4 linked regions of the Homo sapiens genome follow. Each later gene encodes a partner of the first gene's protein in a complex. Each region holds a gene or a part of one and is shown in the gene's direction. Other genes may lie near its edges.

Region 1 (3,047 bases):
GCTGTTTCATTCTCAGCCCCCTCAGCAGCACTGGGGGAAGAAAGCATTGTCACAACAGGTTCTTTCTGGCCCTCACCCAACAGCCTGGGCACTTGGCCCTCCTCCTCCTTGACAGCCCTCCCCCTTCCTGCAAAGGACAGGGGCGACAGGGGTTGGTGTTGGGATTGGCTCCCGCTGCCTGACAACCACAAGTTTATTTGGAAGGCTAGCGGGAAGCCCAGCGGCTGGCGTTTCCCTTGACTAAGGAACAGGGTGCCCATCAGAGTGGGGCGGGCAGCTTTGGGAAGGACACAAGAAGCAGTAAGAGTGTAAAGAGGATGCTGGCCTGGGCAGGCCAGTCCAGCCTGGCCACTAGCAGAATACCAAGCAGTCCAGTGGATTACCCTCGTGGCTAAGCAAGTGTCTGCAGGAGCAGAGATGGCTGGAAGGGGCCTCTGCACACGGAAGATGGCTTGTTCAGCCCATTCACCTCCTGAGGATGTGGGCAGTCTCCTCCAAGAACACATGGAGCTGCTTCCTGATCCCAAGCAGGTCATTGCCACTGGAAGGACATGGCCCCGGTGATCCATGCTTCATGCCCACCCAGAAACACACCCCTCAGTGTGTGCCTCAGTTTACTTTGGAGATCAGTTGTCGTTTTTAGTGCTCCTTTAGGCTTACTAAAACAGTTTTGGAAACAAAGCTATTTTGAAGTATTCAAGCAGAGGAATTCCCTAACACTGACCCCCTTGTCTTTTTTTAATATTCAGGCTGTTTTATATGCCTAAATTTTTTTCTTAAGATCTAAACGAAAAATAGTTTCTTGTTTAAATTCACATAAGGCAATGAGATATGGAAAGATGACAAGATACGTATAAACATTGGTTTGCATTTTATTAAATTATTCTAATGCAAATCTTGTATAAAGAACCCATGATGTTTTGTAACTTTCTAATTAAAATGTTCAAAATGAGGCCGAGCATGGTGGTTCATTCCTGTAATCTCAACACTTTGGGAGGCCAAGGTGGGAGGATCACTTGAGCCCAGGAGCTTGAGGCTGCAGTGTGCTATGATTGCACCACTGTACTGTAGCCTGGGTGACAGAGTGAGACCCTATCTGTTAAAATAAATAAATAAATAAATAAAAAAGTCAAAATGGAAGATCACATGTACCTTTTTCGAGGGAAAGGGTTTGGAATGGCAAAGAATAGGGAGGGCAGAGGTTGCACACACCTGTCTTTATTACTCATCTACAGCCATGCTTTACAAGGCTCTGCCTAACGACCTTGGAACTTCCATGAGGTCTTTGGTGAAAGTCCCCTAGTTCTTCCCCAGGTAGATGAGTTTTCAGTGGGATTCACATGCCATGTGAAATCTACGTGTTGGATAATTATGACTGTGTCTGGTGAATATGAAATTATTTACAGACCAGATGTTGATAGTTTCTGACTCTGAATCACAGCATAGCTGCAAGAGGTAAATAAAAAGCAAGAGGCCGGGAGCGGTGGCTCACGCCTGTAATCCCAGCACTTTGGGAGGCCGAGGTGGGTGAATCACAAGGTCAGGAGATCGAGACCATCCTGGCCAACATGGTGAAACCCCATCTCCACTAAAAATACAAAAATTGGCTGGGTGTGGCGACACGTGCCTGTCATCCCAACTATTTAGTAGGCTGAGGCAGGAGAATCGCTTGAACCCTGGAGGCGGAGGTTGCAGTGAGCCGAGATTGCGCCACTGCACTCCAGCCTGGCAACAGAGCTAGACTCCGTCTCAAAAAAAAAAAAAAAAAGAAATATAGAGGATTTTATTAACTCAGCTCCGACCCATAGCTAAGTTAAGGTTTGATGTTATTACTGAATATTTGGAGGCAGAAAGACTCCTGATTTTGCCAAATGATTAGTACAGTTTCGGCTTAAGTCAGATGAGGCCCCCCTAATATTCCATCATGTAAGGCTAATAAAGCAATTATTTCTTTTTTTTTTTTCCTTCCAACTTTTATTGTAGACTCATGGGGTATATGTATGGGTTTCGTATATAGCTAAATTGTACAACCTGGGGGTTTGGTGTACAGATTATTTCATCACCCACGTAATAAGCATAGTACCCAGTAGGTGGTTTTTCTTTTCTTTTTCTTTTTCTTTTTTTTTTTTTTTTTTGAGACAGAGTCTCACTCTGTTACCCAGGCTGGAGTGCAGCAGCATGATCTCAGCTCATTGCAGCCTCTACCTCCCAGGTTCAAGTGATTCTCCTGCCTTACCCTCCCGAGTAGCTGGGATTACGGGTGCCCACCACCATGCCCGGCTAATTTTTGTGTTTTTAGTAGAGACAGGGCTTCACCCTGGTGGTCAGGCTGGTCTCGAACTCCTGACCTCAAGTGATCCATCCGCTTTGGCCACCCAAAGTGCTGGGATCACAGCAGTTTGATCACAGAAGTTATTATGGTTGGCATTCTGGCACACATCTTTCTAATCTTTTTTGTTGTATGTAACCTTTTTAGTATCACAAACAACACTTTTATAAACCTTGTGTAGAAATCATTGTTGCTGGTTTATTTCCTTAAGATACATTCAGAAAACTTATGACCATTGTTAAGGATCTTAATTCATTGCCAAACCACAGCCAGGAAAGACTGCTAATTTCTACTCCCAGCAGCAGGGACTCCTCGTTTCAGATACCACCATGGATTAAAGGACCTCCCAATGCTCTATCCTTTTCAGATTACTGGACTCTGCCCGTTTGTTTCTTTGTTTTTGAGATGGAGTCTCGCTTTGTCACCCAGTCTGGAGTGCAATGGCCCCATCTCCGCTCACTGCAGCCTCCACCTCCGGGGTTCAAGCTATTCTCCTGTCTCAGCCTACCTAGTAGCTGGGATTACAGGCATGTGCTACCATGCGCGGCTAAATTTTGTATTTTCAGTAGAGATGGGGTTTTGCCACGTTGACCAGGCTGGTCTTGAACTCCTGACCTCAAGTGATCTGCCTGCCTTGCCTCCCAAAGTGCCGGGATTACAGTCATATGCCACCAGGCCAGGCTGAGCTGTTATTTGTAAGGGGTGGGTGGGGAGCTTT
Region 2 (7,988 bases), on another chromosome or scaffold:
AGAATATAAATAAAAATAAAATTTGCTTAAAATCCATTATCCATGTTGCAACTAGAGTCATCATCTAGAACACCAACCTGACCATGTCCCTCCCTGTAGCTGCAAGGCCTGGCTTCATCTGGCCCCTGTTTACCTAACGAACCTCACACTGAACTTTTCTTCCCCTTCCATCACTAGGTTTCTGAAATGCTGCCTTCCTTACTGTTCAACAAACACACTTGGCTTGTTCTCACCATCTTTGCACTTGCTATGTCCTCTGTCTGGAATGCTCTTTCCCTAGATGTTCATGTAGCTGACTCTTTCACTTCCTTCTATTCAGAGACCTTGGAAAACCTTGCAAAAGCAGGTCCTGGATTTTCCTCACTTTTGGCCTATGACAACTTCTTTCATCTGTGAACAGTTATATTTGATGAATCTCTCACTGGGGGAGCTCACCTCTGAAGGTCTAGGTCGAAAATGCATGTAAGTTGCAGACAGAGGGAAGAAAAGCATGGAGAGTTCGTCAGTCTTTTTTTTTTTTTTTTTTTTTTTTTGAGACAGGTCTCACTCCTGGCACTCAGGCTGCAGTGCAGTGGTGTGATCATGGCTCACTGCAGCCTCCACTTCCTGGGTGCAGGTGAACCTCCCACCTCAGCCTCCCAAGCAGCTGGAACTACAGGTGTGCACCACTATGTTTGGCTAATTTTTTGTATTGTTTTGTAGAGACGGGGTTTTGCCATGTCGCCCAGGCTGAACCTTCAGTCTTTTTATCTTGTCTCCTAAGAACGTTTGAATGCTTGCTATGCTGTAATTTCTGCATTGGAGAATACAGGAAGCTCATCTCTCATTGTAAATTAGGTGTCATTACTATCACTCATTTTAGGAATCAAATGCAATGGGGGTCATTTCAAAGGAGAAAACTTAATGGGTTTCCTTGTCCATCCTGAGAGCAGGGAGGTTTGAAACTATCTTCAGAACTTTGAAGGGGTCCAACAGTTAAGAAAAGAACTGGCCGGGCGTGGCGGCTCACGCCTGTAATCCCAGCGCTTTGGGAGGCCGAGGCGGGTGGATCACCTGAAGTCAGGAGTCAGAAGTTCGAGAACAGCCGGGCCAACATGGTGAAACCCCGTCTCTACTAAAAATACAAAAATTAGCTGGGCATGGTCGCGGGTACCTGTAATCTCAGCTACTAGGGAGGCTGAGGCAGGAGCATCACCCCAACCCACAAGGCGGCAGTTGCAGTGAGCCGAGATTATGCCATTGCACTCCAGCCTGGGCGACAAAGGTGAAAACTCTGTCTCAAAAAAAAAAAAAAAAAAAAAAAAGGGAGGGGGGTGCCGGGTACGGTGGCTCACGCCTGTAATCCCAACACTTTGGGTGCCGGGAGACTGAGGCGGGCAGATCACGAGGTCAAGAGATGGAGACCATCCTGGCCAACACGGTGAAACGCGGTCTCTATTAAAAATACAAAAATTAGCTGGGCATGGTGGCGTGCGTCTGTAGTCCCAGCTATTCCGGAGGCTGAGACAGCAGGATCACCTGAGCCAGGGAGGTCGAGGGTCACTGTAGTCATGATCATACCCCTGCACTCCATCCTGAGTGACAGAGCAAGACCCTGCCTAAAAAAAACAAAGAGAGACTTTGTTGAACCTCCTTTAAAAAAATAATAATAATAATAATAGTAACTCCTCAGTAAAGTTTAGAAAATCACAAGCTTTTATTTCATGGGGATAAAAGCAAGTTTTGGTGATTACATTGTCTCCAATATGAAGAAAAGGCTGTGCTGTCTTTTAAAGAGATGGTTTATATGAAAATGTCATTACATAGTTTCAATATATAGGAGTTCAACATTTTAGGGACCCTCAATCCTATAAATCATTCCATTTTTTTTCCAATTTCTTGTCTTAATAATACAATATAAGACTCCGAAAACATTAATGTTTATTGTTTAAAACTTTTTTTTTAAGACGGAATCTCATTCTGTCACCCAGAGTGGAGTGCAGTGGTGTGATCTCAGCTCACTGCAATCTCCACCTCGTGGGTTCAAGAGATTCTCCTGCCTCAGCCTCCCGAGTAGCTGGGACTACAGGAGCGTGCCACGATGCCTGGCTAATTTTTGTATTTTTAGTAGAGACGGGGTTTCTCCATGTTGGCCAGGCTGGCCTTGAACTCCTGACCTCAGATGATCCACCCGCCTCGGCTTCCCAAAGTGCTGGGATTACAGGCGTGAGCCACCGCGCCCGGCCTAAAACTTTATTAAAAAGATATCTATGTATGTATATATGTGTGTGTGTGTGTATATATATATATATATATATATATTTTTTTTTTTTTTTTTTTTGAGTTGGAGTCTTGCTCTGTTGTCCAGGCTGGAGTGCAGTGGCGCAATCTCGGCTCATTGTAACATCCGCCTCCCGGGTTCAAGCGATTCTCCTGCCCCAGCCTCCCGAGTAGCTGGGAATACAGGTGTGTGCCACCATGCCCGGCTAATTTTTTTTTTTTTTTTTTTTTTTGTATTTTTAAATAGAGACGGGGTTTCATCATGTTTGTCAGGCTGGTCTCAAACTCCTGACCTCAGGGGATCCGCCCGCTTCGGCCTCCCAAAGTTCTGGGATTACAAGCGTAAGCCACCATTCCCGGCCTTTATTATTGTTTTAACAGAGAGAGGTGTCTCACTATGTTGCTCAGACTGGCTTCAAAGTCTTGGGTTCAAGGAATACTTCGCCTTGGCCTCCCAAAGTGCTGGGATTACAGGCATGGGCTTTTGCTTCTGGTCCCAGAGTGCATTTTCTTTTTATTTCTTTTCTTTTTTTTTGAGACGAAGTCTTGGTCTGTTTCCCAGGCGGGAGTGCAGTGGCACGATCTTGGATCACTGCAACCTCTGCCTCCCGGGTTCAAGCACTTCTCCTCCCTCAGCCTCTGGAATAGCTGGGATTAGAGGCGGGCGCCACCACACCTGGCTAACTTTTTAACTTTTTTTTTTTTTTTTTTTTCAGTAGAGATGAGGTTTCACCATGTTGGCCAGGCCGGTCTGAAACTCCTGACCTCAGGTGATCTCCCTGCCTCGGTCTCCCAAAGTGCTGGGATTACATGCCTGAGCCACCGCTCCCGGCCAATTTTTGGCCAAAGTTTCTAAAATAAAGTTTAAGGTTAAATGTCCGGCTGGGCGCGGTGGCTCATGCCTGTAATCCCAGCACTTTGCAAGGCCGAGGCTGGCGGATCACGAGGGCAGGAGATCGAGACCATCCTGGCTAACACAGTGAAACTCCGTCTCTCCTAAAAACACAAAAAATTAGCCGGGCATGGTGGCGAGCGCCTGTAGTCCCAGCTACTCAGGAGGCTGAGACGGGAGAATGGCGTGAACCCGGGAGGCCGAGCTTGCAGTGAGCCGAAATTGCGCCACTGCACTCCAGCCTGGGAGACAGAGCGAGACTCCGTCTCAGAAAAAGTAAATAAATAAAATAAAACAAAATAAATGCTCTATTTTAATAGAATTATAAATGCCCTATTTTTATAGAATTATAATTCTAGCGTTTCTTTTTTTTTTGGAGACGGAGTTGCGCTCTTGTTGCAGAGGCTGGAGTGCAATGGCGCGATCTCGGCTCACTGCAACCTCCACCTCCTGGGTTCAAGCGATTCCCATGCCTCAGCCTCCCGAATAGCTGGGATTACAGGCACGCGCCACCACGCCCGGCTAATTTTGTATTTTTAGTGGAGACAGGGTTTCAGCATGTTGGTCAGTCTGGTCTCGAGCTCCTGACCTCAGGTGATCCGCCCTCCTAGGCCTCCTAAAGCGCTGGGATTACAGGTGTGAGCCACAGTGCACAGCCCGCTTTTCCCTGTTTGTAGCGCCTATTATCTTACGGATTTATTTGTTTGCATGTCTGTTGTTGATCTCCCTGACTAGAATACCCTTACTAGGTAATCAATAAACATATACAAATATTTGTTGAAGGAATGAGAAATGCCTCTTGGGCTTGTAGTTTAGGCTGGCTAAAAGCACTGAGATGGGGAGTGGGGAGTAGGAAGAGATTGTTCTCCTGGGAGATGGGCCGGGAGGTTCCTTGAGGATGGGACTTGACTCAGCAATTAAAGAACTTTCAGATCTGCAGGGACCTGCGCTGAGGCCCAAAGGTCATGAGGTCGCCGATGATAAGAGCTTCTTGGACTGTAGCTGGGCAATGTCGGAGGCCCAGCACCTCCAAGGGACAAAGAAATCTGAGTTGAGTTTCCCTTCCAGCCGGCTCCAAGCCTCCCAGAGACGCAGGGACTGTCCCATTCCCTTCGTCCACTCCCACTCTTTCCAGCCACCTTGCTCTGCTCTTATCCCCATGCTAGTTTAAGGACGCTGGCCATTTTTTGCACTCTGCAAATCCCTCACCAAACTGAGCAAAGTAGTCTGAAAGAAATCAGTCTTCCTCAAGGAAGGTTCAGGCCTGGGGTCCTCAGACAACCAGGGGCTCCGTGACAATCTGTGACTGCAGAGCAGTCCAGGAACACCGGCCTCTCCAGGTTCGGGTCCCTTGTTTCTCAGGCCCAGCTTGGTGGGAAGCTAAAGGCATGCAGAGGAGGGGAAGGGGAGCGGGTCTGAGTCTTCGGCATGGCGGGGAACTCAGCCCGGCGTGGTGGTGGCAGCGGTCTCAAGTGATCCACAACTGGGCAGCGTAGCTGGGGCTGGGGGCCGCTCCCGGCGTGGGCAACAGCAGAAGCATTGGTGTCCCCAAGCTAGGCCAGGGTGGGTTTCCGTTCATCCGCCCTGCGTGGGCAGATCGGGCGCTGCGGGGCTGTGCCACCTCGCACCCTCTGAGGAACAAAGGGCCTGGCTGCGCGCGGGTACCCAGCCGTTAGGTTAGAAGCGCCTTCGGGTACCCCTGACCTTCGCTGGCCCTGAGAGACCCGCAGCAGCCGGAGAATGTACTGCTCGCGAGGATTTCCGAGAACGCGGCGCCGAGCCCGCGTACACGGTTACCAAGGCAACTGGGCGGTGCCTGAGCGGGCGGGAAGGAGGCGTTCGTCTAGATTTGTCGGCTTGCGGGGAGACTTCAGGAGTCGCTGTCTCTGAACTTCCAGCCTCAGAGACCGCCGCCCTTGTCCCCGAGGGCCATGGGCCGGGTCTCAGGGCTTGTGCCCTCTCGCTTCCTGACGCTCCTGGCGCATCTGGTGGTCGTCATCACCTTATTCTGGTCCCGGGTAAGACCCACGGCTGCACTCAATCCGTCCCCATTCCCATCTCTGAGTGGTCCTAGTCCTACCCTGCCCCCTCCCAGTGTCTTACCCTCTTGGGTTTTCTTGTTTCCCGCCGCCCCCAGGCCTGCCCTGCAGCCTGCCCCTTTTTCACTTCTCTTCCTGTGCCCTGCTCCCAGGACAGCAACATACAGGCCTGCCTGCCTCTCACGTTCACCCCCGAGGAGTATGACAAGCAGGACATTCAGTGAGCTCTTGGGACGGGGTGGCCAGAACGAAGAGGTGGTGGGAGTGGAGGGGTCTTAGAATAAGTCCAAAGGCCTGGGCCAGTCCACTTCCTCTCTGCAGGCTGGTGGCCGCGCTCTCTGTCACCCTGGGCCTCTTTGCAGTGGAGCTGGCCGGTTTCCTCTCAGGAGTCTCCATGTTCAACAGCACCCAGAGCCTCATCTGTATCCTTTCTGCCTGCCCACCTTTCCCACACGACCCACTTCTATCAGGACTCCCTTCAGCCACCTGACACAATAGTGTCTGCTGTAGCCAATCCTTCCAGTTCAAAGATCTTCAACGATGTGCTAAATCCTGCTGTTTACTAGGCACTTAAAATCCCAAAATGAGAGTAAAATACAGTTTTTGGCCAGGCATGTTGGCTCACGTCTGTAATCCCAGCACTGTGGGAGGCGCAGGCAGGAGGCAACATAGTGAGAACCCAAGTCTACAAAAATAATAGGAATAATAAAAACCCCACCGTTTCTTTTTACAATGAGGAGGAGGTAGATACAAATCTGTAATTCAGTGTGATAAGCACTGTGCTATAGAAGTGTGTGAAGATAGAAAGCACAGGCAGGGCGCGATGGCTCACGCATGTAATCCCAGCACTTTGGGAGGCCGAGGCAGGTGGACCACCTGAGGTCAGGAGTTCGAGACCGGCCTGACCAACATGGTGAAACCCCCGTCTCTACTAAAAATACAAAAATTAGTCGGGCGTGGCGGCGCACTCCTGTAATCCCAGCTACTCAGGAGACTGAGGAAGGAGAATTGCTTGAACCCGGGAGGCAGAGGTTGCAGTGAGCTGAGATCGTGCCACTGCACTCCAGCCAGGGCAACAGAGCAAGACTCTGTCAAAAAACAAACAAAAGATATAAAGCACAATGGGAACTCAGAAGAGGCAACGGAAGCGAGCACTGGGAACTCAGAAGAGGCAAAGGAGATGAGGCACATGGGTCAGAGAATTGTGGACCAGGAGGACCAGGACACTGGAGGCTGATTCCAGCGCATATTAAGTCGCTGTCAGCACTCCTTTGTGGCATAGCAGAAGGAGAGCCTACTCTTACCTCTCATCTGAAGGATCCAGGCTGGCCCACAGATAAGGGGTAGGGTAGCCTGAGGTCCGATCTGTGCAGTCACTTCTGGTCTCTCCTCACATGACTGTCCTAAAATTCAGAAGTCAGAGCTGCTGACTCTAGCCCTTGAAACATGGTGAGGGAGCAAGGGATGAACCTGAATGCAGATGCCAGCCCCACCACTGGCCTTTTCTGACCCATCACTGTCTGTCGATCCAAAGACTTTCCTTAATCTCGTGCCTTCCCAAGCCATTGGGGCTCACTGTAGTGCATCCGTGGCCCTGTCCTTCTTCATATTCGAGCGTTGGGAGTGCACTACGTATTGGTACATTTTTGTCTTCTGCAGGTGTGGTAGCATCCAATATTTGGGGATGAGGGAGGAAGGTTGGCCCTAAACCTGAAGGTTTTTCCCCTACCCAGCCCTTTCCTCCATGTGTGAGATACCAGATCCACTCAACATCCTGTAGGCTTTTAAAGTTTCATCCCCTACCCCCCATGCCACCTGCCCTACACTTTCAGAGGTGGGGTCTCTGGTTTGGAGATTTGGGTATTTATACTGAAAGGGTTTCTGAATCTACCACTTGCCTTGGTAGTGCCCTTCCAGCTGTCACTGAAATGGCTTTATTCGTCACCGTCTTTGGGCTGAAAAAGAAACCCTTCTGATTACCTTCATGACGGGAACCTAAGGACGAAGCCTACAGGGGCAAGGGCCGCTTCGTATTCCTGGAAGAAGGAAGGCATAGGCTTCGGTTTTCCCCTCGGAAACTGCTTCTGCTGGAGGATATGTGTTGGAATAATTACGTCTTGAGTCTGGGATTATCCGCATTGTATTTAGTGCTTTGTAATAAAATATGTTTTGTAGTAACATTAAGACTTATATACAGTTTTAGGGGACAATTGAGATGGCTGAACTACTGAATAAAAAAAAAACAACGCTGTTTTCTAGTCCTGCAGACCGTAAGATACTTGGTATCGCTTCTATTTTGGTTACTACGGTAGGTGCCTGGCGGAAGGGAGTGGGCGGAGATATGTAAATAGAAAGTGCGTACAGTTAGAACGTCCGGCACGTAACTGATCGGAGCATTCTGGGAAGAAGTAATTTATTCCTTTTCGGCAGCCGAATGAAAAAAAAATTTAAAAAAATGTGCGAGCTAATATGGCAAAACAACTGGAAGGACGCTAAATAATAGGATTGCTCATACCAGCGCGTTATGAACTCACCCTAGCTTGTAACGGAATCTTTTTCACTGAGTGCAGAATGTCGGCTGTTTGTCTGTATCGTCAGGTGGGATAATCCTTACCTGTTCCTCCTCCGGAGGGCAGATTAGAACATGATGATTGGAGATGCATGAAACGTGATTAACGTCTCTGCGTAATCAGGACTTGCAACACCCTGATTGCTCCTGTCTGATTCTTTCTGACGATCACTTACATTTGTGTTATGCTGATTAGCAGATATCCACAAACATAGCTATGAAGTTCTGA
Region 3 (7,035 bases), on another chromosome or scaffold:
TTTCCTGAATTTGAATGTTGGCCTGCCTTGCTAGGTTGGGGAAGTTCTCCTGGATAATATCCTGAAGAGTGTCTTCCAACTTGGTTCCATTTTCCCCATCACTTTCAGGTACACCAATCAAACATAGATTTGGTCTTTTCACATAGTCCCATATTTCTTGGAGGCTTTGCTCATTTCTTTTTAGTCTTTTTTCTCTAACCTTGTCGTCTCGCTTTATTTCATTAATTTGATCTTCAATTACTGATACCCTTTCTTCCACTTGACCAAATCGGCTACTGAAGCTTGTGCATGCATCACATAGTTCTTGTGCCATGTCTTTTAGCTCCATCAGGTCATTTAAGGTCTTCTCTACACTGTTTATTCTAGTTAGCCATTTGTCTAATCTTTTTTCAAGGTTTTTAGCTTCCTTCCGACGGGTTCGAACATCCTCCTTTAGCTCAGAGAAGTTTGTTATTACCGACCTTCTGAAGCGTACTTCTGTCAGTTTGTCAAAGTCATTCTCCATCCAGCTTTGTTCTGTTGCTGGTGAGGAGCTGCATTCCTTTGGAAGAGAGGAGGCACTCTGGTTTTTAGAATTTTCAGCTTTTCTGCTCTGGTTTCTCCCCATCTTTATGGTTTTACCTACCTTTGGTCTTTGATGTTGGTGACCTACAGATGGGGTTTTGATGTGGATGGGGTTTTGATGTGGATGTCCTTTTTGTTGATGTTGATGCTATTCCTTTCTATTTGTTAGTTTTCCTTCTAACAGGTCCCTCAGCTGCAGGTCTGTTGGAGTTTGCTAGAGGTCCACTCCAGACGCTGTTTTCCTGGATATTACCAGCGGAGGTTGTAGAACAGCAAATATTGCTGCCTGATCCTTCCTCTGGAAGCTTCGTCCCAGAGGGGCGCCCACCTGTATGAGGTGTCTGTCGGCCCCTACTGGGAGGTGTCTCCCAGTTAGGCTACACAGGGTCAGGGATCCACTTGAGGAGGCAGTCTATCCATTCTCTGAGCTCAAACGCTGTGCTGGGAGAACCACTGCTCTCTTCAGAGCTGTCAGACAGGGATGTTTAACTCTGCAGAAGTTTCTGGTGCCTTTTGTTCAGCTATGCCCTGCTGCCAGAGGTGGAGTCAACAGAGGCAGCAGGCCTTGCTGAACTGCGGTGGGCTCCACCCAGTTGGAGCTTCCCCGGCTGCTTTGTTTTCCTACTCAAGCCTCAGCAATGGCAGACACCCCTCCCCCTGCCAGCCTGCTGCCTGGCAGGTTGATCTCAGCTGTGCTAGCAGTGAGCAAGGCTCTGTAGGCGTGGGACCCACCGAGCCAGGCGTGGGATGTAATCTGGTGTGCCGTTTGCTAAGACCATTGGAAAAGCGCAGTGTTTAGGTGGAGGTGTCCCATTTTTCCAGGTACAGTCTGTCACGGCTTCCCTTGGCTAGGAAAGGGAAATCCCCCAACCCCTTGCGCTTCCTGGGTGAGGTGATGCCCCACCCTGCTTCAGCTTGCCCTCCATGGGCTGCACCCACTGTCCAACCAGTCCCAATGAGATGAACCAGGTATCTCAGTTGGAAATGCAGAAATCACCTGCCTTCTGCGTTGATTATGCTGGGAGCTGCAGACCGGAGCTGTTCCTACTCGGCCATCTTGGAACAGACCTGCACAAAGTAAAATTTTTATATCAACTTTTGCATAGACTGTTCAGGTTCATGTTACTTTTCTTTGCCATTGTTCTGTTGTAGGTATATGCCAATCTAACATCTTGTCAAGCTCTTGGAAATATGTGTGTGATGAACATGAATTCTTACGACTTTGCCACATTTGATGCATGTGGACTATTTCAGTTTATCTTTGAAAATACTGCTGGACTGAGCACTGTTCATTCTATTTCATTTTGGTAAGGATATTTTGATTGATGAAATGTTATTTTGACTGAATTCAGTGCAGTTATTAATATATTCACAAATACTAATAATAAGAAATATTTATTCTCCATTATTAAAACAGTTGTAACTGTTTATAGGAGACAGAATCTTCCTTGGCTGTTTTATGGAGACCAGTTAGGATTAGCACCTCAAGTGCTCAGTTCTACCTCTCTTCCTACAAATTTCAGTTTTAAAGGAGAAAACCAGGTAAAAGTGTCTAATATCATTAGAGGATAACTACATTTTGATTTATAATTTTAAAAGGTAATAAAGTTACAATTCTTGCCTTTTTAGGTTGTTGGTACAAACTCAGTTACTAAACTAAATATAAATGTCAACAACTCATAAGAACTAAATAGTATAGAGTTTAGCTATCTTACTGAATATGTGGATACTTCTGGATTGTGTGGTTATGGCAAGAAGTTGTACTTGTAGGGTTGGGAAGAGCAGTTTTCATCACCAAATGCAAAAAATCTCTGTCCTGTTTTTTCCACACCTTAAAGAAGTGCTTCCAAAGATTGATTGGGGCTCTGTGACATTGCTCAGCACTTCACAGGGCCAAATTCCTACCTGTAACTTTTTGACCTTCCAGAATGAGGAGATACTATTCTCCCACACTGCCTCCTATTTAACAGGTTCAAAAGGAGGCTATCTGTCACTAGTGCTGCCTCTCAATTCTAGAATAATAATTTTCATGCAAAAAACCAGTCTAATTCTTTCAGGTCTATTTAGTCATAGAAATAGATTAATTGAACCTCAAAATAAAGATAATTGAATGTAATTTTTCAACAAAAAAGATCAGTCAACAATGAAAATTTCTTTATAGGATATTGTATTACTTTCAGAGTATTTGACCTGATTTTGCTCGTTTTCTTTAATCAGAATACAAAACTGAAGTTTGTTGCTGCTTCCTATGATATAAGAGGAAATTTTCTCAAGTGGCAAACTTTAGAAGGAGGTGTTTTACAGGTAAGCATGATTCTAGTTAAAGAATTAATAACATGCATTATTTTTGCCTGAGACAAAGCCAAGAGGAAAAGATTATTGTATGAATAAAGCATCAGTTACATACTACAGTTGATTTTTTTTCTGATGCTTTAAATTAGACTTTCTTAAGTTTTTTGTTTGTTTGTTTGTTTGTTTGTTTTTTCTTTTTTTTTTGAGATGGAGTCTCGCTTTCTTAACCAGGCTGGAGTGCAGTGGCGCGATCTCAGCTCACTACAAGCTCCGCCTTGCGGGTTCACGCCATTCTCCTGCTTCAGCTGGGAGCTGGAACTACAGGCGACTGCCACCACGTCCAGCTAATTTTTATGTACTTTTAGTAGAGACGGGATTTCACCATGTTAGCCAGGATGGTCTTGATCTCCTGACCTCGTGATCCGCCCTTCTTGGCCTCCCAAAGCGCTGGGATTGCAGGCATGAGCCACCATGCCTGGCTAAGTTTTATTTCTTTAAAGTTATGACTTTCATTTATAACAGATGTTCCCTTAACTTTTCATATCCTTGATACATTAAATAAGTATTATGTAGAGCATATATCCATGTTCGGGTTTGAGAACTCTTGAGTATAAGAATAGAAAACATTTGTGAGATTTATCTGTTGTATTATTTTGCTGCAGCTTTGTCCAGACACAGAGACAAGGCTAAATGCTGCTTATTCATTTGGAACAACCTACCAACAAAATGTAAGTTTGAACGATATTAGTCTATATTTTAGCTTTATTTTTCAAAATATCATGTCAGCAGTAATTGGAATAATACTTAAATTTTTGAGATTGGAAATTTTTTATTCTTGGTTTTTTTTTTTTTTTTTTTGAGATGGAGTTTTGCTCTTGTTGCCCAGGCTGGAGTGCAGTGGTGCAATCTCAGTTCACCACAACCTCCGCCTCCCAGGTTCAAGTGATTCTCCTGCCTCAGCCTCCCGAGTAGCTGGAATTACAGACATGTGCCACCACGCCCAGCTAATTTTTTGTATTTTTAGTAAAGACAGGGTTTCTCCATGTTGATCAGGCTGATCTTGAACTCCCCACCTCAGATGATCTGCCCTCCTCAGCCTCCCGAAGTGCTGAGATTACAGGCATGAGCCACCGTGCCTGGCCGGAAATGTTTTTAATAGTGAAGAATAATTTCACTATTTAATATAATTTTTTATTACCTGGGTACATAAAAGCTTAATTTAAGTGGCATAAACAGAGCACCTTGTTATCTATAGAGTTTTTTGTTTTTTGAGACAGAGTCTCGCTCTGTTGCCCAGGCTGGAGTGCAGTGGTGCAATCTCAGCTCACTGCAATCTCTTGCCTCCTGGGTTCAAGCAATTCTCGTGCCTCAACCACCTGAGTAGCTGGGACAACAGGCATGTACCACCACACCCAGCTAATTCTTGTGTTTTGCATAGAGATGGGGTTTTGCTGTGTTGACCACGCTTGTCTCAAACTCCTGACCTCAACTGATCCACCAGCCTTGGCCTCCCAAAGTGCTGGGATTACAGGTGTGAGCCACCTCGTCCGGCCTAGAGTCTTAAACATCATATAATATTACATCTTCATAATAAATTGTTTATCTGCTTCTAGGCTTATAGGTCTTAAAAAGTAATGCTTACTTCTGAGCATTTTGAAATAAAGTAAAAATACTACTTTTTTTAAATGACTAATAAAAAGTTACTCCCTTCTTCTACCCGCTCATAACAAATAAAAATAATTCCTTCATCTTCTTCCATTCTTTTCTTTCTCCTTCCTTCTCTGACTTTCCTTACTTTGATACCTATTTTGAAATTACATTATTTTACTAAGGAATATTATGAGCCATTCAATACTTGAAAAACATGCATGTATTAGTCCGTTCTCACGCTGCTAATAAAAACACATCCGAGACTGGGTAATTTACAAAGGAAATAGGTTTAATTGACTCACAGTTCACTATGGCTGAGGAGGCCTCAGGAAACTTACAATCATGGTGGAAGGGAAGCAAACATGTCCTTTTTCACGTGGTGACAGGAAGAGAAGTACTGAGCAAAAGGGGGAGAAGCCCCTCATAAAACCATCAATCTCATGAGAACTCACTCACTATCATGAGAACAGCATGAGGGTAACTGCCCCTATGATTCAATTACCTCCCTCCGGGTCCTTCCCATGACACATGGGGATTATGGGAACTACAGTTCAAGATGAGATTTGGGTGGGGACACAGCCAAACCATATCAATTCATTAGTCTGTAAAAGTACATCTTGATAAAGTTCCACGCACAACCATAGAACAAAACCATAACAAAAAATACCATTATGGAAAGTAGATTGGAAGAATCTACTAACAGTGGTTACCTCTGGATAGTGGGGTTAGAAATTATTTTTTTCTTTTTTATAATTTCCAAATTTTCTACCATGAACATGAATTTACTTCTTTTGTCAGAAATGATTTACACGTTGTTGTTGCTGTTGTTGTTAAAATAAATGTTATTGTGCTTCTAACATAGGCCAGAAAGATCAACACTTATGTAATGCCTATCTGTGTGCTCAGCATTTTATCGTTATTATCCCATTTGATTCATAAAATAACTATATGAGATACATAGTATCTGTGCTTCACAGATGAGGAAATTATGCCGTGTAATTAGGTAATTTACTCAAAGACTTGTGTCACATAAACTGTGGAGCCAATGTTCTATCATCAGGTTTAAAAAGCATTTTTATTTCTTTGAACCTGGCTAACTCTCAAGTCCTTCATAGACTAGTGGGCAAAACAGTTATATAGACAAAGAATTGCAAAGAATGTGATAAGTGTCATTCTATAGGTATGTACAAGGTACTGATTCCTGGGGAAGTATAGAAAGGCTTCACAAAGTAAGTGATACTTGGATTTGTATAATGAATATGAGTTTTCCAGAAGAACACAGTGGGGAAGGAAATATCAGACAGAAATCACATTTGTAATGACAGAGAGACATACAGTAGTATGGCATATTTAGAAACTACAAGTAGATTAGTATGAATGGACCACCATAGACTGATAGGGAGTAATGAGAGATAAGCCTGGCTTGGTTAATGGAAGCCAGATCATATACATCATTGTACAGCAGGAGAAAAAATTGGGAATTTATCCCGTAGGACAGTAGTTTTAAACCTTTTCACTGATGTACCCTTAATATTGAGAATGAAGGTATACCTCCTTCATCTGAGTTGAAGCTCAAGAAGTTCTCAAAATTCTCAAAGCAGTACTTTACTGTTAGTGGTTTTGGTCCTTATAAAATAATCATAGTATTCATGTTTTGGAAGACAAATGAAAATGCATATAAACAAGGTAGTATAAAGACATTTTGCAAAACTAGAAAAACACTCTGAAGATAATAAATATGCTTGCTAATTTTCAATTGTGATCTTTTATTTTATTTTTTACTTTTTAGTACTTTAAGTTGCTGTTTTATGTGCTTTTATTTTTAATTTTACTTTTCAGTGTGAGATTCCTATCTCTAAGATCTTAATTGACTTTCCCACTCCTATATTTTATGATGTGTACCTTGAATATACTGATGAAAATCAACATCAATATATTTTGGCTGTGCCTGTGTTAAACCTAAATCTTCAACATAATAAGATATTTGTGAACCAAGGTAAGACATCCATACATACCACTCTTTTCCCTGAGCAGAAATCAACAAATAAGTTAACCTACATGATAATTTAATAAACCACTGATTATAAGAAAGGTCATGAATTCTCTCTTATGTGGTTCTATACAGTGTGCCAAAAAATGAAACAATAAATTGCTGGTGGACTTAGAAACTGTTGCTAATTTTATTGCCAGACATATTGTTAAGAAATTATACTGTTGCTGAGGGTATATCCTGAGAAACATTAGTAGAACCGTAAATTGGGGCTTTTTCGTCAAGCTGTCCCGAATATGCTTTTTTGGACAAATTAGTTTCTTTTGTTGTTATTCATGTTATAAAATTCTGCTTTTTCAGGTAATTTGCAGGGGAAAGCCTTCCAAATTTATGAAAAGTTCAATCAGAAGACATTCAAGTCCAAGGCACGGTGGCTCACGCCTATAATCGCAGCACTTTGGGAGGCCAAGACGAGAGAATTGCTTGAGCCTAGAAATTGAAGACCAACCTAGGCAACATAATTAGAACTGGTTGCTACA
Region 4 (7,035 bases), on another chromosome or scaffold:
GTTCTTTTATCATTCTATCTAAATTTACTGTCCTTTCTTCTTTGTAATTTCTGACCTTTTCATTCTCAGTCATCTGACTTCATTTCACTTACTTACACATTTCTTCATTAGTCTATTCAGGGTGCCACAGAGAATACCACAGACTTCATTGCTTAAACTACAGAAACTTATTTTCACACAGTTCTGGGGGCTAGAAGTCCCAAGATCAAGGTGCCAGCAGGATTGGTTTCCCGTGAGGCCTCTCTTCCTGGCTTGGAGGTGGCTGCCTTCTTGTTGTGTCCTCACATGGCCTCTTCTCTGTGCAAAAAGAGCACGCTCTGGTTTCATCTTTCCATCTTCTAAGGACTCTAGTCTTATTAGATTAGAACCCCACTCTTCTGACCCCATTTAACCTTAGTTATCTCCCTAGAAGCCCCTGTCTCCAAATGCAGTTACATTAGGAGTTCAGGTGTCAACATGTGAATTTTGGGGAAATATCATTTGGTTCACAAGAATCTCTATTCAGTCCTATTTAATACCTGATTTTGAAATTCTTGTATCTTTTTCAAGCTCCTCTGTGGTGTTTCTCACCATTCCTAGACAACTTAGAAGATACTCTGTTCCATTCTTCAGTTTTCCTTTTTTTTTCATTGTTTTTGTGTTTTCTTTCTCCTAATATAAAGTGCATTACTACACACTCATCCACAAAACATTTGTTTTATATTTTGCTATTGCCATTGAATCATTTGGAAAGCTACATTGTTCATTCCACAGATCAGGATGTTACAGCTTTCTTATATATAAATTTCCTTCATTTCTTTTCTTGTCATGAATGAATGTCCTATACTTTTGTGTGTGTGTGTGTGTGTGTGTGTGTGTTTGTGTGTGTTTCCACCTAAGTTGATAGAACTTTCTGATTTTTCCCAGGCATCTAATATTTTTCTGAGACAGATGAAATTTATTTTATTCTGTAAGTCCACAGATAATTGTTTAAGATTTTGAAATTTATTTTATTCTTGTCCCTTTATCATGGCTAAGAAGGAGCCCAACCAGCCAAAGGTTTGTCTGTTAACGTTATTTTAAGCAATTCCTTGTCTCTCATCCCCGTGTATACTCATTAGTTCTGCCGGATGTTTTTCTCTGTCATATCCTCACATTTATCCCCATTTTTGTTTCCACTGCCACGGCCCTAGATCAAAGCCTCATCTGAGCTTTTAGCTCAGCTCTCTTTTACTGGCTCCTTGTTTCTGATCTTTCCCTCCTATAGTTCTGAAATGAGAAAAGAACAGAGCCATGAGGACCAAGGACACATAATGGATACACGGATGAGGAAGAACAAGCAAGCAGGCAGAAAAGTCACTCTAATAGAGGTAAGGGGAAAACCAATAGAAAGTTGCGCTATGTTGTCAACAGGAAAAGATTTAGGAAAGCATGGTCAGCAAGGACAAATACCAGAGAGAGGCAAGTAAAATAAGGACTGACAAGTCCCATTTGGGATCTGTAACCGGGAGGCCATTTGCGACCTTGGAGAAGATAGTTTTGATGGAGAAACCTGGAAGCATAAATCAGATTGTCTCCAGCCCAAAGGGAAAAAGACTGTAAGAATAGTCTTATTCTCTTTAGAAGCTGGAATTTAAAGGAAAGAAAAAGCTAGGCAGTAACTAGTGGAAAACACAGGGTATAGACAAGATCTTTATAAAGAGGGGAATGACAAGAATATTTACAAACTGAGAGGAAAGAGCCACTTGAGAAGGAGCCATCTGCGGTGTCGGAGCAGAGTGATAGTCCCTGGGGGCCTAAGGAACTCCAGAGGATTACAGCTCAAGAGTGGGCCACTTTTTCCACCGAGATACGCCAGTGGGAAAATGTGTTTGGATGGTAGGGGTTGGGGTATAGGGAAGGCCTGCCAGAAGGCCTTTTCTCTATTAAGTAGAAGTGAAGTTTCTGTTCAAGGTGAAATGTTACGAAGCTGTTCATGTCCACATTTATAAATTTGTCATTTTGTAGGAACTAGAGTCAAAATTTTCATATTTTTATTTTTCCATTGTAGAAAACTAAAATCTAATTGTACAGAAGCATATAGATGCATAGTTATGTAATCATGGGCTAAGGAATTATTTTTAACCTTGATACCAGAATTGGAAAACATTATAAAACAGATTCTTAAATAATGGAAACTTTAAAATTATGCAGGTCAAAAAGAAAAAAAGTCATAGAATTTTTAAATGAACAATAACCTGGGATGGAAGAGATTTACCCATGGAAGAGTAATACTCTTTTTTTTGTTGTTGTTGTTGTTTTGAGACGTCTTGCTCTGTCACCCAGCCTAGAATGCAGTGGTGCAATCTCAGCTCACTGCAGTCTCCACCTCCCGGGTTCAAGTGATTCTCCTGCCTCAGCCTCCCGAGTAGCTGGGACTACAGGCACGTGTCACCACACCCAGCTAATTTTTGTATTTTAATAGAGTCAGGGTTTTGCCATGTTTCCCAGGCTGGTCTTGAACTCCTGACCTCAAGCCATCCACCTGCCTCAGCCTCCCAAAGTGCTGGGATTACAGGCGTGAGCCACCGCACCTGGCCAGGAGTAATACCCTTAACAAATAAAAAGCTCTAAGAGGAGCTTTTTCAACAAGAAAAAAAATACACCAGTAGAAAAACGGGACAAAGATATACACAGGACATTCTTAAAGGATTCTTAAAGGGATAAATATAAATGGCAACAGACATATGAAAAATGTTTACCATCCATTGATCAAATTAATGAAAATTAAAACAATAAAATGAGATGGTATTTTACCCTTTCAAAATGACAAGTTTCAAACTTATGATACATACCTAGTATTGATGAGAAAATGGGATGTGGATTCCCGCTTACACTGCTGGTAATACTATAAGATTGATCCATTCTTTGTGAAGTATAATTAGGTAATATGTTAGGGTTTTTTTTTTGTTTTGTTTTGTTTTCAAAATGTGCATCTCTTTGACCTGACAGTTCAACTTCAAGGAATCTCTTATAGGAAAGTATTCAAGTATACATGGAGAGATTTAGTTAAAAGGCTACTCCTTCGAGCAGTGTTTTTAAAATAAAGGGTTGATTAAAATATGAAATATTTATATAACAGAATATCATATGGTTATTCATCATATTATGGAAGTATTTTTATGGACATGAAAAGATGTTTATGATTTTTAAGTAAAAAATGATTATAAAATAGTTTATATAATATACATCAAAAGACATGAATAATTATCTGAGTAGTAAGATTATGGTAATTTTTTTCTTCTATTTTAACTTTGTGCATTTTCTAATTTATCTACTTACTGTATATTTACTACTTGATCATTTCTTTCAAAATGAATGTAATTTTTAGAAATTTTCTAATACAGCGTGTTGTTTCTACATTTAAAGAAACCAAGGTTTCAAAGTTACAGCTACAAAGTACCTGAACTAGGAATTAATCTTCTTGCCCCAAGTTCAGGGCTGTTTCTCTTACACATTGCTTTGTATATTAACTCTGATTAGATGGCCAGTGCTTCCAGTCAGGGGCTATTATTTAATACATACTCACATTTTTTTCCTCCCCTGCACTTAGCCTGGTGTCTTGCCACAGAAGTAAACCTTCAGGAAAGATCTATTGGATTGAATGTCTTGTGGGGTAAGGTCCAGGTTTTTTTGTTGTGTTTTGTTTTTGTTTTTTTGAGAGGGAGTCTTGCTGTGTTGCCCAGGCTGGACTGCAATGGTGCGATCTTGGCTCACTGTAACCTCCACCTCCTGGATTCAAGTGATTCTCCTGCCTCAGCCTCCCGAGTAGCTGGGATTACAGGCACCCACCACCACACCTGGCTAATTTTTGTATTTTAGTAGAGATGGGGTTTCACCATGTTGGCCAGGCTGGTCTCAAACCCCTGACCTCAAGTGATCACCCGCCTCAGCCTCCCAAAATGCTGGGATGACAGGCATGAGCCACCATGCCCGGCCACGGCCCGGTATTTTTATGAATCTTATTCCCCAGACATAACATACACACAAACACTAACCTAGTTTCATACTTGTTTTCATAAGCTTGCTAAGAAGAATGTTTCTTTCTCTTTTCATCACAAGAGCCTTTAAAAAGGGCTTTGCTTCGTTACTTTCTTCCTCTGTTAGATTACAGAGATACTTTATGAGAAGATAGAGAAGGAATGGCTTTGCATTTATCCTTGTCTTTTGGTTAGATGTCTTCTCCTCCCTCTTTCAGCACATCCCTGCTGTCTCCTAGCTTTCAGGTCCTTTTGCTGTTAGCGTTCATCAAGCCAGTGTGCCACTCTTGATTTTCCTCCCATCGTCAGGAGGAGCCGCCAGTGTCCGAAGGGTGCACATGACCATCTTTATTCTGTCTCTTTTCTCCCTTTTATGCGCCATCTTTGTCATTCTCTATCCAGTGTGTTTCTTCCTCTTCTGAGTCTGAATCATTTCCCTCAAAGATGTTATCTTTGCTGCCTACTTTAGATTTTTCGAGTTGAATTTCTCTTTGGGTTCTTCTCCTGAAGGTCCGTCTGGCTTCTCTGTTTACTTCTCACAGTGCAGTCACCACCTGATTGATTTCACTTGTCCTACATCTTCTGCACGTGCAGGATCCATCTCACTAATTTCCAGCTGTTCTTCTCCCCTTCTCCCCCTTCCCTTTTCTGTTTTTCTTCTTCTTTTTTGTCCTCCCACTAACATGAACTCTTCCTCTCACTTTGTTTTGCCTTATTCTTCCTGTAAGATCCTTTACCCTCCTCACTGCCTTTTGCAGAAGTTTATATGTCTCTCTGTGACTTTAGCCCAGCCTTCATTGAAACTACTTTCTTTTCCATTTTTATCAGATCCTAATTTGGTGAAAGTTTTACGTACTTTTTCTGTATATGTACAGGGAGACTTTTTTTGCCCCTAGTGGTATTATACCTTGGCATGCCGTATTCTGTACCATTTTTATACTCAACTTCATGTGCATTCATGAGCTTCACTAGAACGTATTTTTGGGCTTCTATATATGATACAAGCTTACCTGGAGTAGCTCTGTTTAACAAATTTAAAATCAAGAAACATCAAGTGATAAAGAATTTTTGCCCCTCATGTGTAAATGTGTTTTATATGAAAAGATAGTGCGACCATTGATTTAAGATTGGGCCTGTTCCTTAAAGCACAGGTGTCCCCTACACCTCCTGTGCCCCCAGGGAAAGCCCTTCAGGAATGGTTAGCCATTGCCCTTTCTTGCCACAGTGTGCCAGCTGTCACTTTTCTCAGGAGTGGTCGATGGAGTTGACTGCTACCTTAACCAGATTTGCCATCGTTCTGAAACTGCCGTGTGTTTTCTAAGGACAACCAGGTGTTAAGCCTTTCTCTTTAGAAGAAGGACAGTAACCTTTCTGTGTAAGTCCAGAACTTATCAATGCTGTATGAATGATTGCATTAAAAAATGTTAGGTTTAGCCCCACTAATTTATCTCACACTAGTTGTAGTGCAAATACTACATGCTGTCTAAGGAAGCAACTTCTTGTTTCATCTGCATATTGGTTCTTGATTTTTATGAATTGTATAATTTGTTTTACATCAAAGCCACATCTGGATGCTTGATTGTTACTATCTTGGTCAAAAATGAGACAGCCCATTTTTTAATTGATTTGAAAAATGTAATAACCTAATTATATAAAAGTAGGCATAGCCATAGACTAAATGAAAGAATGCTATTTAATAAAATTATCTGTATCCTTCCGAATCACTAACCCTGAATATCATCCATGAGGACTTTTTTTCCCATTCAATGAAGAATTTCATATACTCTGATTGCCTGCTCTTCATTTCTGGAAGTTACTTATGGTTTGGAGTTTTTAGTGTCTATATTTGGGGATTTTATTTCTTTCTTGCTTACATTAACCTGTCAATGCAGGAGCAGGCCTTAAACAATTGCTAATGATACAAAAAGATGCTAACAATGTTTGAGAGGCAAACTAGAAGATAGGAAATTAGTATTTTGGTCTTTTTTAGTTGTGTTTGTATGTGTTTGTGTTTTACACAATGTCCTTTATTACCTGTGCTGTTGCCTGAGCACACTAAGATTTGGTTGTAGTCAGAAGACATTATTCAAGTTTATTTAGTACATTTTGTGTATTTTTCTTTCCAGTAAAGAATTGAAGAAAAGTTAAGAGCTGCCGAAATGCACAGAGGTGAAAATGACAAACCAAATGGAATTTCTCTTCAGAGTTCAGAATTTTCAGATACTAAGGAGGAAGAAAGGATCCACTACTTCTTGTTCTTATGAATGACTCTAGAAAAATCAGAATCAAGTTGTGGGTGGAAAAATCAACGTGGCCTTTGAGTTCAGTTGTTATAAACCATTGTGACTATTGTTGGTCAAAGTATTGGTACTTATATTGTTAGTAATTGCATCATAATTACATTACCAGTGTTGGAAAACTAATGAAGAAAACACTGTAATTGCTACTCAGCAAATGTGAATAAAAGGTGTTTGCGTTATTAGGATGTCTGTTAAGTAATCATTTAATATTATTATATTGGTAATGGTTGTATGTGTGATGCTATGCCCAGAATATGAAGTATCTGTTTTTGAAATTCACTTTATTTAAAAGATAAGCAGCTGACTGGGCACGGTGCCTCATGCCTGTAATCCTAGCACCTTGGGAGGCTGAGGCAGGTGGATCACCTAAGGTCAGGAGTTCAACAACACCAGCCTGACCAACATGGTGAAACCCCATCTCTACTAAAAATACAAAAATCAGCCGGGTCTCATGGCAGGCACCTGTAATCCCATCTACTGAGGCAGGAGAATTGCTTGACCCAGGAGGCAGAGGTTGCAGTGAGCCAAGATCACGCCATTGCACTCCAGCCTGGGGGACAGAGCAAGACTCTATCTCCAAAAAACAAAAAAGATAAGCAGCTTTAGAATATGGCGCATTCAAAACAGTCTCAGTAACAAAGACATTAAAAGAAAACAATTTACTTTCTAATTAAAATTTTGTGTTTCTTAAGATCAAATCATATAGGTAACTTCATAGACCTAAATTAAAAGTGATT

The links.
Region 2: TMEM231 (region 1) and TMEM107 share a complex: the UniProt entries of both Homo sapiens proteins name them as parts of the tectonic-like complex.
Region 3: TMEM231 (region 1) and TMEM67 share a complex: the UniProt entries of both Homo sapiens proteins name them as parts of the tectonic-like complex.
Region 4: TMEM231 (region 1) and AHI1 share a complex: the UniProt entries of both Homo sapiens proteins name them as parts of the tectonic-like complex.

The regions. Positions count from the first base shown.
Region 1 is NC_000016.10:75,536,210-75,539,256, reverse strand, and holds the end of TMEM231 (transmembrane protein 231), read left to right. Parts: 3' UTR 1-2,516; downstream 2,517-3,047. UniProt on the Homo sapiens protein: Transmembrane component of the tectonic-like complex, a complex localized at the transition zone of primary cilia and acting as a barrier that prevents diffusion of transmembrane proteins between the cilia and plasma membranes.
Region 2 is NC_000017.11:8,173,381-8,181,368, reverse strand, and holds the start of TMEM107 (transmembrane protein 107), read left to right. Parts: upstream 1-4,988; 5' UTR 4,989-5,082; coding exon 5,083-5,169; intron 5,170-5,342; coding exon 5,343-5,410; intron 5,411-5,493; coding exon of another isoform or gene 5,494-5,511; coding exon 5,512-5,612; intron 5,613-6,494; exon of another isoform or gene 6,495-6,593; intron 6,594-6,752; coding exon 6,753-6,849; intron 6,850-7,096; coding exon 7,097-7,166; 3' UTR 7,167-7,988. UniProt on the Homo sapiens protein: Plays a role in cilia formation and embryonic patterning. Requires for normal Sonic hedgehog (Shh) signaling in the neural tube and acts in combination with GLI2 and GLI3 to pattern ventral and intermediate neuronal cell types.
Region 3 is NC_000008.11:93,778,877-93,785,911, forward strand, and holds part of TMEM67 (meckelin isoform 1 precursor), read left to right. Parts: intron 1-1,716; coding exon 1,717-1,871; intron 1,872-1,997; coding exon 1,998-2,106; intron 2,107-2,781; coding exon 2,782-2,868; intron 2,869-3,518; coding exon 3,519-3,584; intron 3,585-6,345; coding exon 6,346-6,502; intron 6,503-7,035. UniProt on the Homo sapiens protein: Required for ciliary structure and function. Part of the tectonic-like complex which is required for tissue-specific ciliogenesis and may regulate ciliary membrane composition.
Region 4 is NC_000006.12:135,284,737-135,291,771, reverse strand, and holds part of AHI1 (jouberin), read left to right. Parts: intron 1-1,246; coding exon 1,247-1,349; intron 1,350-6,124; coding exon 6,125-6,127; coding exon of another isoform or gene 6,128-6,146; 3' UTR 6,147-7,035. UniProt on the Homo sapiens protein: Involved in vesicle trafficking and required for ciliogenesis, formation of primary non-motile cilium, and recruitment of RAB8A to the basal body of primary cilium.